2 separate regions of the Homo sapiens genome follow, and region 2 is linked to region 1. Evidence: fine-mapped expression QTL. Tissue or cell type: whole blood. Region 1 holds a variant in brackets; the other region holds the start of a gene. All regions are shown on one strand. Distances are from middle to middle.

Region 1 (8,104 bases):
ATGCCCTTTGAAATCATTTGAATCAAAGATTGCGTGTGTTAAAGACATGTTTGTCTGTTATCTGAAAGCTGTGGTTTCTCTTTAACAGATTCAGGGCCTCATCCTTTGACTCGGAACCAGGAAGGAATTAGGAGCGAGTCCTCCTGCCCAGAGAGCTAATTACTGAAATTCAGTGGCCTCACCAGGGCGAGTGGCGTCACCGGCCTGCATCCCCCAACAGCTCCTAATTTCTAACTGGTCAAAGTTAGACATTTCAGTACATTTTTATGGGCTGCCCAAAGCCAGCTGGAAGCTTTTTTTCCATAAACTCTCCCTGAGACAAGTAGCCAGGTTTCACATATTAAAATGAAAACGTCAAAAGCGTTAACAGGAAAAAAAAAAAAAAAAAAAAAAGCAGGCTCATTTGTGAGGCCTCAGCTCACAAAACCTGAATCAGGGTCCAACAGCATCTGCCTGTTTTTATTCTGCAAAGCTGAGATCAAGTTAAAAGGATGATGATAATCACTTGTTTATCTATTCACTCAGCAAACACTTATGGGACATTTACTGGGTGCCAGGTCTTGAACTGGGCACTGAGATGAGAAGCTGCCTGAGGCATGATGGTCCCATCCCACTGCCCTCCAGGGCTCAAAATACTTTATAGTTTACAAAGTGTTTTCACATGCAATTTTGTGAGCTGTGGGTGCCATTATTATCCACATTGCTTAATACATGGCAGAACCTGACCTTAGGTTGTCCAAGTCCAGATTCTAAGTCCAAGTCCAGTCCAGATCCTAGAGCCTGTCCACTCTTTCCTTCCTTCCTCTCTTTCTTTCTTGTTAGTTCTTTCTTTTTCTTTTTCTCTTTTTTCTTTCTCTTTCTTTCTTTCTTCCTTTCTTCTTTCTCTTTTCTTTCTTTCTCTCTCTCTCTCTTTCTTTTTTTCAAGACAGGGTCTTGCTCTGTCACCCAGGCCAGAGTGCAGTGGCACAATCATGGCTCACTGAAGGCAGCCTCAACCTCCCAGGCTCAATTGATCCTCCCAACTCAGCCTCCTGAGTAGCTGGGACTACAGGCGCCTGCCACCACACCAGGCTAATTTTTTAATTTTTCGTAGAGGCAGGGTTTCGCCATGTGGCCCAGGCTGGCCTTGAACTCCCAGGCTCAAAGGATCTTCCTACCTCGGCTTCCCAATTCCTGTGCTGGAATTACAGGCATGAGTCACTGCGCCCAGGCTACCTTGGTCCTTTTTTTTTTTTTTTTTTGAGATGGAGACTTGCTCTGTCGCCCAGGCCAGAGTACAATGGCATGATCTCAGCTCACTGCAACCTCCGCCTCCCAGGTTCAAGTGATTCTTCTGCCTCAGCTTCCCGAGTAGCAGGGACTACAGGCGCCTGCCACCATGCCCAGCTAATTTTTGTATTTTTAATGGAGACGAGATTTCACCATGTTGGCAAGGCTGGTCTCAAACTCCTGACCTCGTGATCCGCCCGCCTCAGCCTCCTAAAGTGCTGGGATTACAAGCGTGTGCCATCGCGCCTGGCCTCATCTGTTATTGGCCTAAGGTGGGCAATAGCTCCAAGAGGTTTAGCTGTCACTTATGATCTGTCCAGCATCCACCCCCACCTTAAAATTCTGGTTCCTTTTTGGAGGAGCTCCCCATTTTGAGGAAGGATAAAACTAGCACCCACCTCCCAAGGCCACCATCACTGTGAAATCCTAGTGGAGCTAAATCCTTCCATGGCATCTTATCCTGCCTGGCTAGTGGACAGGCACATGGAAAATGCAACACTAGCCAATCAGATAATCATTCTTGGGGCTGACTCTTGAGTGAGTGGTGAGGGGACCCTTGGAGATCACTCACCCACAGTAGAGAACCCTGGATCAGACTGTGCCTGCAGCCTTCCCTTGGCCAGAATTCCTCTCTTGGTCCTGCCCTTTGTCCAAGCCTGTTCTCCAGCCTCTTGTTCATTCTGTGTACCTTCAGTACCCTCCAGAAAGTCCCCCTTTTGCTTTGGATGGACAGAGTTGGTCCTGGTTGCTCATAATCAAGAATTCCAACTGATACAAGGCCCTTGGTCTCCATCCTGTTTACAGAGATGGCAGGAAATAGCCACCTCCCCTGGTGCTGTGGACACTGACCAAGGAGTTTCTTCCCAGGAAAACCATTTTTGGGTGCCATGAAAATATTGGCATAGCCTCTCTTGCCAAGGCCTGAGAATTATCACAGCAGATAGACCCAGTTGTCCAGGTTGCTGCCTGCATCCTGAAAGGCAGACATAAGTTCACGGCTCAGTGCTGGGTTCCACACCTCTCAGCTCTTCGAGCTGCCACCAAGCTTGTTCTCCCTGCAATTCCATTCCCATCTGGGAGCTTCTAGCCTTTTAAGGGTCATGAGTGTGAAGAAGGAGGCTGGGCCAGGCGCGGTGGCTCAAACCTGTAATCCCAGCACTTTGGGAGGCCGAGATGGGCAGATCATTTGAGGTCAGGAGTTCAAGACCAGCCTGACCAACATGGTGAAACCCCCCTCTCTACTAAAAAAATACAAAAATTATCCAGGAGTGGTGGCGCATGCCTGTAGTCCCAGCTACTTGGGAGGCTGAGGCAGGAGAATCGCTTGAACCTGGGAGGCAGAGGTTGCAGTGAGCTGAGATCGTGCGACTGCACTCCAGTCTGGGCGACAGACGTGTGGGGACTTGCAAGAGGACAAGGAATCAAGAGACGTGCACGCGTGTCATTAGGTGCTCAGGGGACGAGCTCCGTTCTCAAGGACTGTGAAGGAAGGTGGGTCGGTCAGTCCCTGGAGAAGCAGAACCAATGGGAGATACACTAGGTATGTATACAGATGCTTGTCCACTTACGATGGGGCTTCTCCAATACCGTAAGTGGAAGATGCATTTAATATACCTAACCTACCAAATATCATAGTATGATTTCTACTGAATGCATATAGCTTTTGCACCATCGTAAAGCCAAAAAATCATAAGGCATACCATCATCATTCAGGGACCATCTGTGTGTGTGTGTGTGTGTGTGTCTGTGTGTGTGTGTGTGTGTGTGTGTGTGTGTTTGTTCATAAACAGATGTATTTAAGAAATTAATTTGCATGATTGTGGGAGCTGGCAAGTCCAAAATCTATAGGGCAGGCCAGCAGGCTGGCGACTCAGCAGGAATTGATGCTTGAGTCTTCAGACAGAATCTTTTCTCCAGGAAACCTCAGTTTTTGTTTTTGTTTTTGAGATGGAGTTTCACTCTGTTGCCCAGGCTGGAGTGCAATGGCGTGATCTCGGCTCACTGCAACCTCCGCCTCCCAGGTTCAAGCGATTCTCCTGCCTCAGCCTCGCAAGTAGCTGGGATTACAGGCA[C/T]GCGCCACCACGACTGGCTAATTTTGCATTTTTAGTAGAGACAGGATTTCACCATGTTGGCCAGGCTGGTCTTGAAATCCTGACCTCAGGTGATCCGCCCACCTTGGCCTCCCAAAGAGCTGGGATTATAGATGTGAGCCACCGCACCCAGCCAGAAACCTGTTTTTACTCTTAAGGCCTTCCACTGATTGGCTGTGGCCTACTCACTCTATCGAGGGTAATTTTCTTTTTTCTTTTCTTTTCTTTTCTTTTTTTTTTTTTAGACAGAGTCTGGCTCTGTCACCTAGGCTGGAGTGCAGTGGGGCGATCTCGCCTCATTGCAACCTCCATCTCCCAGGTTCAAGCAATTCTCCTGCCTCAGCCTCCCGGGTAGCTGTATAGGTGTGTGCAATCACACCCGGCTAATTTTTTTGTATTTTTAGTAGAGACAGGGTTTCACCATACTGGCCAGGCTGGTCTCGAGGGAATTTTTCTTAAAGTCAACTGATGATAAATGTTAACCACATCTCTAAGATGCCTTGACAGCGACACCTAGATTGATGTTGGATTAAATAACTAGGTATGATAGCTTAGTCATGTGGACATATAAAATTGACCATCACAGAGGGGTCAGCCCAGAGTGGTGCCTCTGCCAGAGGGCGGTGACTACAGGCTGGATGAACCAGCCGTTGGAGTGGGAAACACTCCAGCTGACATTGGGTCATCTGGCTGTGGAAGGGATCTCCATAGTCACACCAGGAGTGCATGGCTAAATGCTGTGGTTAGCCGTGAAGGATGAGTGAATAAATGACTCGTGGTTTGAGCCTATGTTTTTCTTTGCTTTCCCTGTGACCTGCACAGACCAAGCTCCTTGCTGCAGAGGTCTGTTCCTTGGAATGCTTCCCCCCACCCACTTTCTGTCTAGCTGCCTTCGCATTTCTCTATTTTGGTTCGGTGTCCATACAAACTCTACTTGCCACCACACCAGCCACATATAACTCCCCAGAGCCTCTTTCCTGCAGGCTGACTGTTCAGATTCCCTGCACACACATGCCTGGGGCCTGTCGAAGCCTCATGGGTGAGACCCAGACCCCGATGGTTAGAACCACATCTGCAATGAAGAGCTCTCAGCTCACAGGCTCCTACCCTGAGGGATGTCCCACACAGCTGGGCTCTCTCCGTGCAGCTCCAGCCCAGATGTTTCCTCTCCTCTGCAGGGGGAGGCATCTGGGACTTTGAATTGTAATCTTGGAAGAAGCAGCTATAAGACACAGATCTGAATGGTCCCAGCTAAACCTCTTGGAACTATTGCCCCAACTTAAGCCGAAGATCAGGGAGCAGAACAGACAACAGAGAAAGGCCAGACGTGAGAGTTCCTTCTGAGAGCTGTAAAAGAGTGAAGATTAGCTTTAAAGAGCCATGGAATTCTGGCAACAGAATTTCCGCTTCTCCAAGCTGAAAGAGGTCCTGAAGGTCACTTAGGTATTCCTCCACCCAGGCAGGGATTACCTCTGAAACTCATAAGAAGGTCACATGTCATGGAACACTCAAACAGAAGGATTTTAAAATAAATTTTGGCAATTAAAAAACTCAAGAGGACTGCTGGGGACCTGACAAAAGTGGCATGGCATACATCTCTGGGCAAGGGAGGGGCAGAGGCCTGGACCCACTTATGGCTCATGTGCTGATTTACTACTTCATCTTGAATGCGTCTTTCCTGCAGGACTTTGGCCAGACCTCTCCTGCTTTGTTTTTTTTTTTTTTTTTCCAAGATAGAGTCTTGCTCTGTCACCCAGGCTGGAGTGCAGTGGCATGATATCGGCTCACTGCAACCTCCGCCTCCTGGGTTCAAGCCATTCTCCTGCCTCAGCATTCCCAGTAGCTGGGATTACAGGCGCACATCACCATGCCCAGCTCATTTTTGTACTTTTAGTAGAGACGAGGTTTCACCATGTTGGCCAGGCTGGTCTCAAACTTTTGACCTCATGATCTGCCCGCCTCGGCCTCCCAAAGTGCTAGGATTACAGGCGTGAACCACTGCGCCGAACCTCTCCTGCTTTCTAGATATCCGTTTCCCCATCTGAAAATGAGAAGTTGGAAAACTTGACTTGGAAGGTTCCCTCCATTAAGACACAGGGTCTCACTCTGTTGCTCAGACTGGAGTGCAGTGATGTAATCATAGCTTACTGCATCCTCGAACTTCTGGGTTCAAGCAATCCTCCTACTTCAGCCTCCTGAGTAGTTGGCGCTGCAGGTGCATGTCACCACCCCAGCTAATTTATTTTTATTTTTAGAGATGTGGTCTTGCTATGTTGCCCAGGCTGGTCTTGAACTCCTGGCCTCAAATGATTCTCCCACCTCAACCTCCTAAGTAGTTGGGATTTACATGAGTGGCTGGTATTGGCTTTTTTTAATTTTTATTTTTATTTTTTTAGACAGAGTCTCGCTCCTAGGCCAGAGTGCAGTGGTGCTATCTGAACTCACTGCAACTTCTGCCTCCAGGGTTGAAGTGATTCTCATGCCTCGGCCTCTGGAGTAGCTGGGATCATAGGCGTGTACCACCACATCCAGCTAATTTTTTTTTTTTTTTTTGTATTTTTTGGTAGAGATCTGGTTTCACCATGTTGGCCAGGCTGGTCTCAAACTCCTGGCCTCTGGTGATCCGCCCACCTCAGCCTCCCAAAGTGCTGGCATTACAGGTGTGAGCCACCGTGCCCAGACTGGCATTAGCTTTTGAATACACCATATCACCTGGGTTCAAACCTCAGTTCCACCAATACTAGTTGAATCATACAAATGACCCTGTTGTATCCACTATCTTCTTATTTGCTCTCCTCTGGCTATATCTTGGGCAGTTGGTTATATCTTGTCTCCTTCATGAAATGCCCAGCAAGAGCCTTGGCTCCCGGGGAGCAGCTCTCATCTCATACATTTCCTCTTTCTCCTACACACCCAGCTTGGGGCCAGGAGCTCATCCACCTCACGCGGATCGACTCATGGATTGCTTGATTCCAGAAAGGATGCCTTGTAAATACTGGAGTTCATTAATAAAATGACACCTCTGTATTTTAACGTGGGGAAAACTTTAAAGGTATCTTTAATTAACTATATCTGAGTCAGTCTTTTATGATCACACTGTTTTAATCATATCAATCAAAATCTCTAATTGAATGTAGTATGTAGACCTAATTGATAAAAAACAAGAAGACAAAATATCTCGCAAATAGTCAATGCAGCTTTTGGTGGGTCAAATCTTTATATAACAACCTTTATAAAGAATGACTGGGAGCAACTCATTTGTTCTAGACTTCATATATTGACCAGTGAGTCCATCTGAAGCCCTGATTAGAGAAGTGACCCATCCTAGGTTACCGAGTGAGGGAGAAACAAAGCTTAGACTGAGTTCATAGAATCAAATAATTTTGCCATCAGAGGCAACTTAGAGGTCATTGTGGTCTGACCCTCCTTGTCCTGATCACTCCTTGTCTCGACACCCTCCCACAATTATCTATCAATCTGTCTGTCCCCCTAGCCCCACCCCCTAGCTCTGGACCAGGAGCTTCTATTTTTTTTTTTTTTTTTTTTGGAGACAGTGTCTTGTTCTGTCACCCAGGCTGCTGGAGTGCACGGTGTGATCTCAGCTCACTGCAACCTCTGCCTCCAGGCTCAAGTGATCCTCCCACCTCAGGCTCCCAAGTAGCTAGGACCACAGGTGCATGCCACCATGCCCAGCTAATTCTTTGTATTTTTGGTAGAGATGGGATTTCACCAAGTTGCCCAGGCTGGGCTCGAACTCCGGAGCTCAGGCAATTCACCCACCTCAGCCTCCCAAAGTGCTGGGATTTCAGGCATGAGCCACCGTGCCCGGCTGGACCGGGAGCTTCCTGAGATCAAAGGCTGCATCTTATTCATCTTCATGCCACGCCTGTCATTCCTAGCATGGTGCCTGCCTACAGCATGGTTCGCTACACATGTGCACTATGTTGAAAGGGTGAACAAACCACCACTTTATCTTTAACAGATGGGGAGACTAAAATTTAGACAAGGGAAGGGATCCTTGGTTCCACAGCAAGCTGGCAAGGCAGGGAAATAGGATCTCCAGTGTCTGGTGAAGGCTCCCCTTTCTTTTCTACACCCCCTGGGTTCACAGAGAAGGCAGGCAGACTTCTCTCATTTCCCCACAAAAGCCACAGGTAAAGGTGTTTATAGTTTGGCAGCTAACCAAGGCCACAGGCATGCCAACAGGTCACAGTCTGACCCTGGCAACCATTTTTTTTAAAACTGGTGTTAATAACCGTGCTTTCTACTGTAATCTGAAAACTCTCTACACCTCCATGCTGAGGACATGATAAACCAACCCCGAAATTCAGGCCATAAAACATGGGCTCGTCTAACTGGTCACCTGCATAATAATTACTTCCAAAAATTATGTAATAATAATTATTCATATTTGTGAAAAGCCTCTTGTGTGTAGAGCAGTTTCTTTCTTTTTTTTTTTTTTTTTGAGATGGAGTTTTGCTCTTGTCACCCAGGCTGGAGTGCAATGGCACAATATCGGCTCACTGCAACCTACGCCTTCTGGGCTCAAGAGATTCTCCTGCCTCAGCCTCCCAAGTAGCTGGGATTACAGGTGGCCGCCACCATGCACGACTAATTTTTGTATTTTTAGTAAAGATGGGGTTTCATCATGTTGGCCAGGCTGGTCTTGAACTCCGGACCTCAGGTGATCCGCCCACCTCAGCCTCTCAAAGTGCTGGGATTACAGGCATGAGCCACTGTGCCTG
Region 2 (8,104 bases), 40 kb before region 1:
CAGGCGCGGTGGCTCATGCCTGTAATCCCAGCACTTTGGGAGGCCGAGGTGGGAGGATCACCTGAAGTCAGGAGATCGAGATCAGCCTAGCCAACGTGGTGAGACCCCCGTCTCTACTAAAAATACAAAAATTAGCCAGGCGTGGTCGTGGGCGTGGTGGTGGGCCCAGCTACTCAGGAGGCTGAAACAGGAGAATCACTTGAACCCGGGAGGCAGAGGTTGCAGTGAGCCGCGATTGGGCCATTGCACTCCAGCCTGGGTGACAAGAGCCAAACTCCATCTCAAAAAAAAAAAGACCCTAACACATAAAGAGATTTTGAGCTGTTAAAACCAAACCAACAAGGTGGGCAGCTTCATCCCTCCCTCCACCATCAGTCCTACAAGGTTAAGACATCTGACAGAGAAGGAGCCCTTGTCAAATTGGTAGTTCGCAAAAATAAAGGTGTAGCTTTTAATCTAAAATTCTACCCCAACACTAAGTTCCATAACTATTTTGATTAATATATTCTTAAGGATTTAGCGACCGTGTGTGTGTGTGTTTAGACGAAAACAGAAACGGTTCCTTAAAATATCCAGTTTGTAAAAGCACAGTGCCTTGAACCACTTAGTACTATCATTTTGATCAAGTACTATCAAGTACTATCACTTGATTGCTCCAACCCAATAAGCTTGGGCGAGCCTGGCACTGTGCTAGGATCTTCTGGAGAAATCCAAGAAAGGTAAGACTGCGGTTTTACTCCTCTTCACCTTCTCACTACTCGGATTTTGGGCAGGCAGGGGACCAGGGTGGGGGCTCCAATTCCCGGTTTGTGTTTGTTTTTTCAGGGGGCATCTTACTGAGCACTAAACACGCGCAGGTGCTGCACCAGATGCCAGGAGCCCCGCAAGCGGAGGAGCTGCGTACACGCGTGTCAGTTAACTGGGCGCACAGTGCCCGTGGCGCCGCAGACCCGGCCCTCAGACTCAGTTTCCCCTCACAGGGATCGCTCGCCCCGCCCCGCGGCGGTCTGGGGAGCAGCAGCCCCGGGCCCCGGCCCTGCCTTGCCGGTTTCCGCCGGTGCGGCTGCGTCCTTCACACTCCACCGGAAGCTCCGGGCCTGGCCGCCGGTAGGCGGTGGCGGAGGCGGCGCCGAGGTTGGCTGCCCTACACCCCTGCCCCGGGACCGCAGGGCGGCTCCCCGGCCCCCTTCCTCGCCCCGAACTCCCCGCTCCAGCTCCCGCTTGCTGAGGCGGGGACTCCTCGGGTGCAGCCGGGGACCTGGCACCTCGGCTGCAGAGACCGCCCCGGACTCAACTGCCCCCAGCCCAGCCGCGGGCGCCCCGGCCCCGCAGGGGCTCATTCCTCTTTCCGCGGGCACCGGCGCTGCCTGGCTCCCAGCGCTGCCCTCGCAACTGGATATGTGGAGGTGGCGACGCGACACTCCCCCGCCCTCGGGCGGGCTCACCGACCTGGCTGGGGGCTCAGCCTGCAGAGCCGGGCGGCGGGGGCTGTGCTGGCGCCGGCAGGCGCGAGGAATCACAGAGCGGGGCGCCCAGCCTCATCATGGGGCGGCCCACGGAGACTTCCCGTGGGAGTGGGGTCTGGTGCAGGGGCGCCCCAAAGGACGAGTGGGAGATGGGGACACGCGGCGCAGAGAGACTCCTCGTGGATGGAGCCGATGGAGGCCCAGTGTAGAAGAGAAAGGGGTCAAGGAGACGGATAAGGAGCCACCAGAGACGCGGGGGGAATTCCCCGCAGAGGATGCGGGAAGCCGGGGAAAGGAAGGGATTCCGGAAGGAAGGGCTGAGAGCCGGGTCAGGTGCTGGCAGGAGGGCTGGTTGGATAGAAACTGGGGCGGGCCCAGGGCATTTGGCGTCCCCGACATGCGTATACACTTGGAGAGATGATTCCCTGGAGATCCAAGTGCCTGTATAGACAATCTTTTCTAGAAGTTCTACCGTTAGGTGAGGCGAGAGTAGATGTAGAAATTGGAGACGAGAATAAAGAGTGTTTTAAAAGCGTGCGTGGTTACAGGACTGGCTCTGGGTTCAGGGGTCCCCACTCACTAGCTGTGAGACCTTGAACAAGTCGCTTAGCCTCTCTGTGCCTCAGTTTTCTCATCTGTAAGGTGGGGATGATGATGGCAATACCTGCTTCACAGAGTGAAAATTAGATGAGATGATGTCTGTAAAATTACGTAAGACGGTACCCAAAAGTAGTACTATTTTTCCCTTTTCTTATTAGAGCAGGTTGCGCACGTTTTGATGTCCGTGGGAATGAGCAGGTAGAGAGGGTGGTATTGAGGCCGGAGGGGAGAGAAGGGACCCACAGATGGGGAGAGAAGTCTTGGGTGCCTGTTTTATCCCAAACCAGGGGAAGGAGGGAACAGGTAGGGCTGGCTGCAGGAAAGCTTGCAGGTATGGGGTACACAGTTAAAAGGGAGTGTCTTCTGATAGTCTTGATGCAGGCCTGGAGGTCGTTTGTTATGGGGGTGGAGGTCCTGATGTACATTGTGGCGGTAAGATGCCGTGCTGTCTTTGCCACCAGCCTGTGGCAGCCCTGGTGTTACACCAGGGCAGGTGGGCAGTTTAATGTATCTCAGGCCAGATGACCTGCCCTGCCCACCTGTTGAGGCTCCAGTAGATAGACGTGAAAGCACAGTATAAGCATAATGCACCACTTTAATCCTTTTCTCTGAGGAGCTGGAAGGCCTGTAGTCACCATCTGAGCCAAATGTCATTCAAGTACTTCACTTGGGTTACACACCACACTTTGACCCACTATCTCATTTAGTCATCACAACAAATGGGTGAAATAGGTATTATTGTCCCATTTTACAGATGCAGAATCTGAGTTTCAGGGAAGTTAAGGACTTTGTCCCAGGGCCCACAGTTAGTAAGCAGTGGACCCAGGATTTCAACTCAGCTCTGTCTGACCTCAAAACCCATGATCTGAAACCACTGTGAAAGTTTGCAAAACCTCTGTAGCAGCCAAGCAGGATGGAAAGATGTGTAGGGATTGTCTTCTCCATTTGATAGATGAGACAAGAGCTGGGTACTCTGATCTCCATCCCAAGCACACAGAGCTTGGGGCCCCACAGCCCTGGTGTGAATCCCACTCCACTACCAGAGGCTGTGTGCCTTTGGACCAGGCATCTTGCTTCTCTGACCCTATATACAGCTGCAGAAGAATTCCTTGCAGGTTGCTGTAAGGATTTGGAGGGAAACTGTTGCCCAGCACACAGTACACATTCTGGGAGCCATCGTTTCCCCAGTGCACTTTTCCTGCAAATGTGGATCTACATCCCACTTGGATGCTGAGACCAGCTGCTGTGATCTTGCATTTGTTTAGCGCTTTGTTCTCCTTGAGGCAGTAAAGTGGTGGCACCTGACCGGAGCATGTAGCCACCTATGACTTCCTGAGTGGGGTGGTGTGGGGAGGGCCCTGAGGAGTCTGTGGTCCTAGGCCTTGGATTTCATCAGGGCTTTCCTGCTCCTTCTGGTTGCCTCAGTCCCAGGCAAGATAGGGTCCCAGAATCTTACAGCCCAGAGGCCACCTGTTGCAACTTCTTTTTTACAGATGGAGTCATCAGAACCCACTGTGAGGAAGTGACTTCTCCTTGAGGTCACCCAGACACTCCAAACAGAGCAGAGCAAAAGCGCCTAGAACTTGAAATTTTGGACCTGTCTCCAACACCCTGGGGATTTCCACCAGGAAGGTGAGCACCCCCACTGAGAATTCCAGGCTGCTCAGAGGTGCCAGGGAACACAGACCAGGGACCAGCTGTGGCCCCCTCCTCCGATGTGCCCAGGGAAGTGGGGGAAGCCAGCGGCAGCCTGCGATTCTCAACCAGGGGAACTCTCACTGTGCTTTCTGAGAGTCTGTGACACGGGTCATTTTCTCTGACTTGCTCTCTTGCTTTTTCTCACTCTAAAAAAAAAAAAAAATGACTGGACACTCCTAAAGCCTTCAGTCACCATCCAGGGGATTTTTATCGCCACAAAGGGTAATTCCTGCTCCATCCCTGCTGTGACTCAGCTGTGACGTTGAACCACACAAGCCAGAGAGAAGAAGATAAAGTCATCAGAGCTCCTACTCACCAGAGAGTGAGGCCCAGGCCAGGACTCCACAAGGCTGGTCCCCTGCCCTGGAGCAACTTAAACAGGCCCTCTGGCCAGCCTGGAACCCTGAGATGGCCTCCAGCTCAGGCAGCAGTCCTCGCCCGGCCCCTGATGAGAATGAGTTTCCCTTTGGGTGCCCTCCCACCGTCTGCCAGGACCCAAAGGAGCCCAGGGCTCTCTGCTGTGCAGGCTGTCTCTCTGAGAACCCGAGGTGAGGTGATGGAGGAGCGGAGGGTGGGCAGAAAGTGGGTGCCAGGGAGGGACCCCTGATGGGAGGTGAGGGGCAGAGGAGCCTGTGACTTCAGGCGGTGACTTTTCTTCTCTGGGCCTCAGTTTCCACACCCTTTTCTCACACTCCCTGACACTGCCCCTCTGGCTGTGGTGGAAGGAGAGGAAGCCACAGAAAGGCATCAGCTCCCACAGGGGAAAGCCATCCACACCGAGGAGAGCCTCGAGGCTGTGAGGCCACTGTCTCACTGTGTGGTCTGGTGCTCTGCTAATGTCCCTAAGCCGCAGCTCGCTTGTCTGTAAAGCTGTTTTCTGTGTCATAGAATTGTTAATGAAGCCCAATGAATAATAATCACAAAAGTCCTTATAATAACAAATATAAACCTCTTGGTGAATGACAAACTGTTAGACGAATATCTCTCCTTCCACAGCATTGCTCATCACCTCAGACCGTTTGCTGGGAACCCTTTTGGAGGGGACAAAGAGATCGATATATATTTGTGTATTTAATGATACTTAAAATATTAACAACCCAGAAAGGCATGATATCAGTACTATTGTGGACATCCCTCTTTAAGCAATTATGCACCTACTGTGTGCCAAATGCTCTGCCCTTGGGTCCTCAGCACAACTTAGAGGGGTGGATACTATTATGATCCTATTTTACAAATGAGAACACTGAGGCCTAACAGATTAGGTCAGCTTTGGTCAGTTTCCTGGCAAATATGCCCTTAAACTATCTCATGTGATGACCTTTTGTTTGCGGTTTTACAGCTTAAGAAGGTGGCAAAGCTGAATCAGGCAAGTGAGAAGTTCAAACATGACGACAAAGGAGGAGGCTGTGAGAATAGCGAGGAGAGGCTGTGGCCGTGGAAAGGCCAGCCAGGAGGTGGAGGAGCAGAGGTTCACTGGTTTTACCATCAAGCGGATTGTCAGGGTTCAGCTCAGGCTCTGGTAGTGGGTCTCCTGGTTTCCCCTCTCCCTCCTTCCAAAACCTGGCAGAGGAGGGAGCTGATTGGAAGTTGGAGGGCTGAGGCCTGAGGCCTAAGTCCTGAAGAGCTTCTACTCAGCTCTGCTCCTGACTCACTCTACCTTGACCAATCCACATGCCCTCTGGGGCCTCATTCCCTCACTTGTAAAATAGACTATCTCGGTAGCGGTAGCAGGTCAGAGACACCAGGAGCTTTGTAAAAACACAGTTGCTGGCCAGGCGCAGTGGCTCATGCCTGTAATCCCAGCACTTTGGCAGGCCGAGGCAGGAGGATCACTTGAGGTCAGGAGTTTGAGACCAGCCTGGCCAACAAGGTGAAACCTCATCTCTACTAAAAATACAAGAATTAGCTGGGTGTGGTGGTGTGCACCTGTAATCCCAGCTACTTGGGAGGCTAAGGCATGAGAATCACTTGAACCTGGGAGGCAGAGGTTGCAGTGAGCTGAGATCGCACCACTGCACTCCAGCCTGGGCTACAGAGTAAGACCCTGTCTCAAAAAAAGAAAAACCCCCAAAAAACAGACAAAAAACCCACGGGTACCCAGGTGTTACCCATTAGAATCTGACACCCATTCCTGATTAAGAACCTCTAGGACAGATGTTCTCTGAGGCCCTTTCTTGTTCTAATAGGCCATGATCCTCTGTAATTACTAAACATATAAGACCAAAACCAAATGGAGGACCAAATGAGAAGAGCAAATATAGTCACATGTCAGCAATCTTTTGCCTAAACCCCTGAGATCAGATGTGTTTTGTAATTCAGAATTTTTTTTAGAAAAGCAAATCAGGGCATCATGTAATTGTGGCAGGGAATGCGGCAGTGCCCTGTAATCAAGCACATTAATGTTTCTGCAATGAAACATGTATATATTCACACTAAGTGGGGCAAGTAAGGGCTATAATAGCTTCCGGTCAGTGCAGTCACGGCAGGTTTGGCAGCCCAGGAAGCTCACTGCAAACTACCAAAAAATGTGGGATACTCGGCAGTTTTGCGATTTAGGAACTGTGGCTCTGGGATTGTGGACGTACATGATCACCACCCTGCTGATAGTTGAGGCTTCTGGAGCTGTCAGGAGAGTGGATGGTGCAGGGAGCTGTAGTGCCTCTCTCCAAGGCTTTGTCCATGTTTCCCCAGGAATGGCGAGGATCAGATCTGCCCCAAATGCAGAGGGGAAGACCTCCAGTCTATAAGCCCAGGAAGCCGTCTTCGAACTCAGGAGAAGGTACGTTGGCACATCACAGAAAGGCATTTGTCCGTTGTCTTGATTTTTCCAGGTTGAAGCCAAGTAGACAGCTGCCCACTCCACCCCTGGCAGGCACCTCCCAACTAGTCCTGAGTCCAGACTGAATTTGCTTTATAAGGAATAAGGAGACTGATGTTCACAGTGGTGAAGTGTCTTGCCTAAAGCTACCTGGCAATAGACTTAGAGTGAGAACAGTCCAGACCAGGGGTCCACAAACTACGGTTCATGGGCCACATTCTGGCCCACCACCTAAGCAACGAGCTAAGAGTGGTTTTTATATTTTCAAATGGTTGAAAAAATCAGAAGAATGATAGGCCATGCATAATGACCTGTAATTCTCGAGGCTGTGAGGCCACTCTCTCACTGTGTGGCCTGCTGCACTGCTAATGTTCTCAAGCCACAGCTTGCTTGTCTGTAAAACTGTTTTCTGCATCACAGAATTGTTATGAGCCCCAATCAATAATAATCAAAAAAGTTCTTATAATAACAAATATAAACCCCTTGGTAAATGACAAACATGCCTGTAATTCTGAAGTGTTAGAATTCAAATTACATAGAATTACATGCCTGTAATTCTAACACTTTGGGAGGCCGAGGTGGGCGGAGAGCTTGAGCCCAGGAGTTTGATACTAGCCTGGGCAACATGATGAAACCACATGTTTACAAAAAATATAAAAACTAACCTGGCATGGTGGCACATGCCTGTAGTCCCAGTTAGTCTGGAGGCTGAGGTAGGAGAGTCGCCTGAGCCTGGGGAGGTCGAGGCTGCAGTGAACCATGATCGTGCCACTACACTCCAGCCTGGGTAGCAGAATGAGACCCTGTCTCAAAAAAACAAAAAAAGATATTTTGGGACACATGAAAATTATATAAAATTGAGTACTTGCAACAAAGACTTCATAGCCCAAAATATTTACTATCCACCCCTTTACATAAAAAAGGTTAGCAAACTCCTCATCTAGATGGTTCTGTCTGCCTCTGTTTGCCTTTAGGTGGGGAGAGACCATTATCAGCTCACGTCCTGAGCTCTGTCAAACGGTGCTTCTAGGAATAAGAGACACATTTGGAAGTGTGATAGGCCAGAGAGACATTTTCAGGAGCTACAATTTAGAACCCTGGCCCTCCCAAGCTGGAAGGACCCTCATAGGTTACATGTCCTGCTCAGAGGTTCCCACATGCTATCCAGAACTGATCCATTCCCACCAGCTCATGACAAAATGATAAAAATAAGGCAATTCTATAAATCAGTTTATGTAAACTAAATTCTTTCCATTTATAAAACCAAACTTTTACTCTGAGATTGCGTCTGTCCTATGCATGTCTTTATATAAATGAAAGGATGTAATCGTAGATGATAGTTTTTGGCAAAGCCTTTGCTAAGTAAAATTAAAAAGATGACAATCTCTTTGTTAATCTCTCAATTTAAAAAAAAACACACTCGTATTGGTCCACGAATCCAAACAGGCAGGAGTCACTGCTCAAAATCAAATCCTCTTGTTTACACACGGGGCCCTGAGACCTGCAGAGGAGTCTCGTTGCT

What was found. PIP is the estimated chance that this variant, and not a neighbour inherited with it, causes the effect.
Region 2: TRAF1 starts here. The variant in region 1 is fine-mapped to the expression of TRAF1 in whole blood (TOPMed, PIP above 0.99).

Annotation. Positions count from the first base shown.
Region 1 is chr9:120,882,563-120,890,666 of GRCh38, reverse strand. It overlaps a transcript of PHF19 not described here. Among named protein-coding and RNA genes, the nearest start is that of PHF19, 9.4 kb to the right of the region's middle. The variant C/T (reference allele first, on the strand shown) is at 3,342.
Region 2 is chr9:120,922,144-120,930,247 of GRCh38, reverse strand. It overlaps TRAF1 (TNF receptor associated factor 1), which reads left to right and starts at 3,452. Exons shown (of 8, transcript NM_005658.5): 1 at 3,452-3,698; 2 at 3,947-4,312; 3 at 6,456-6,543. The coding sequence starts at 4,173. RefSeq lists a silencer at 924-1,513 and enhancers at 3,174-3,493, 3,834-4,173, 4,634-4,703, 4,300-4,823.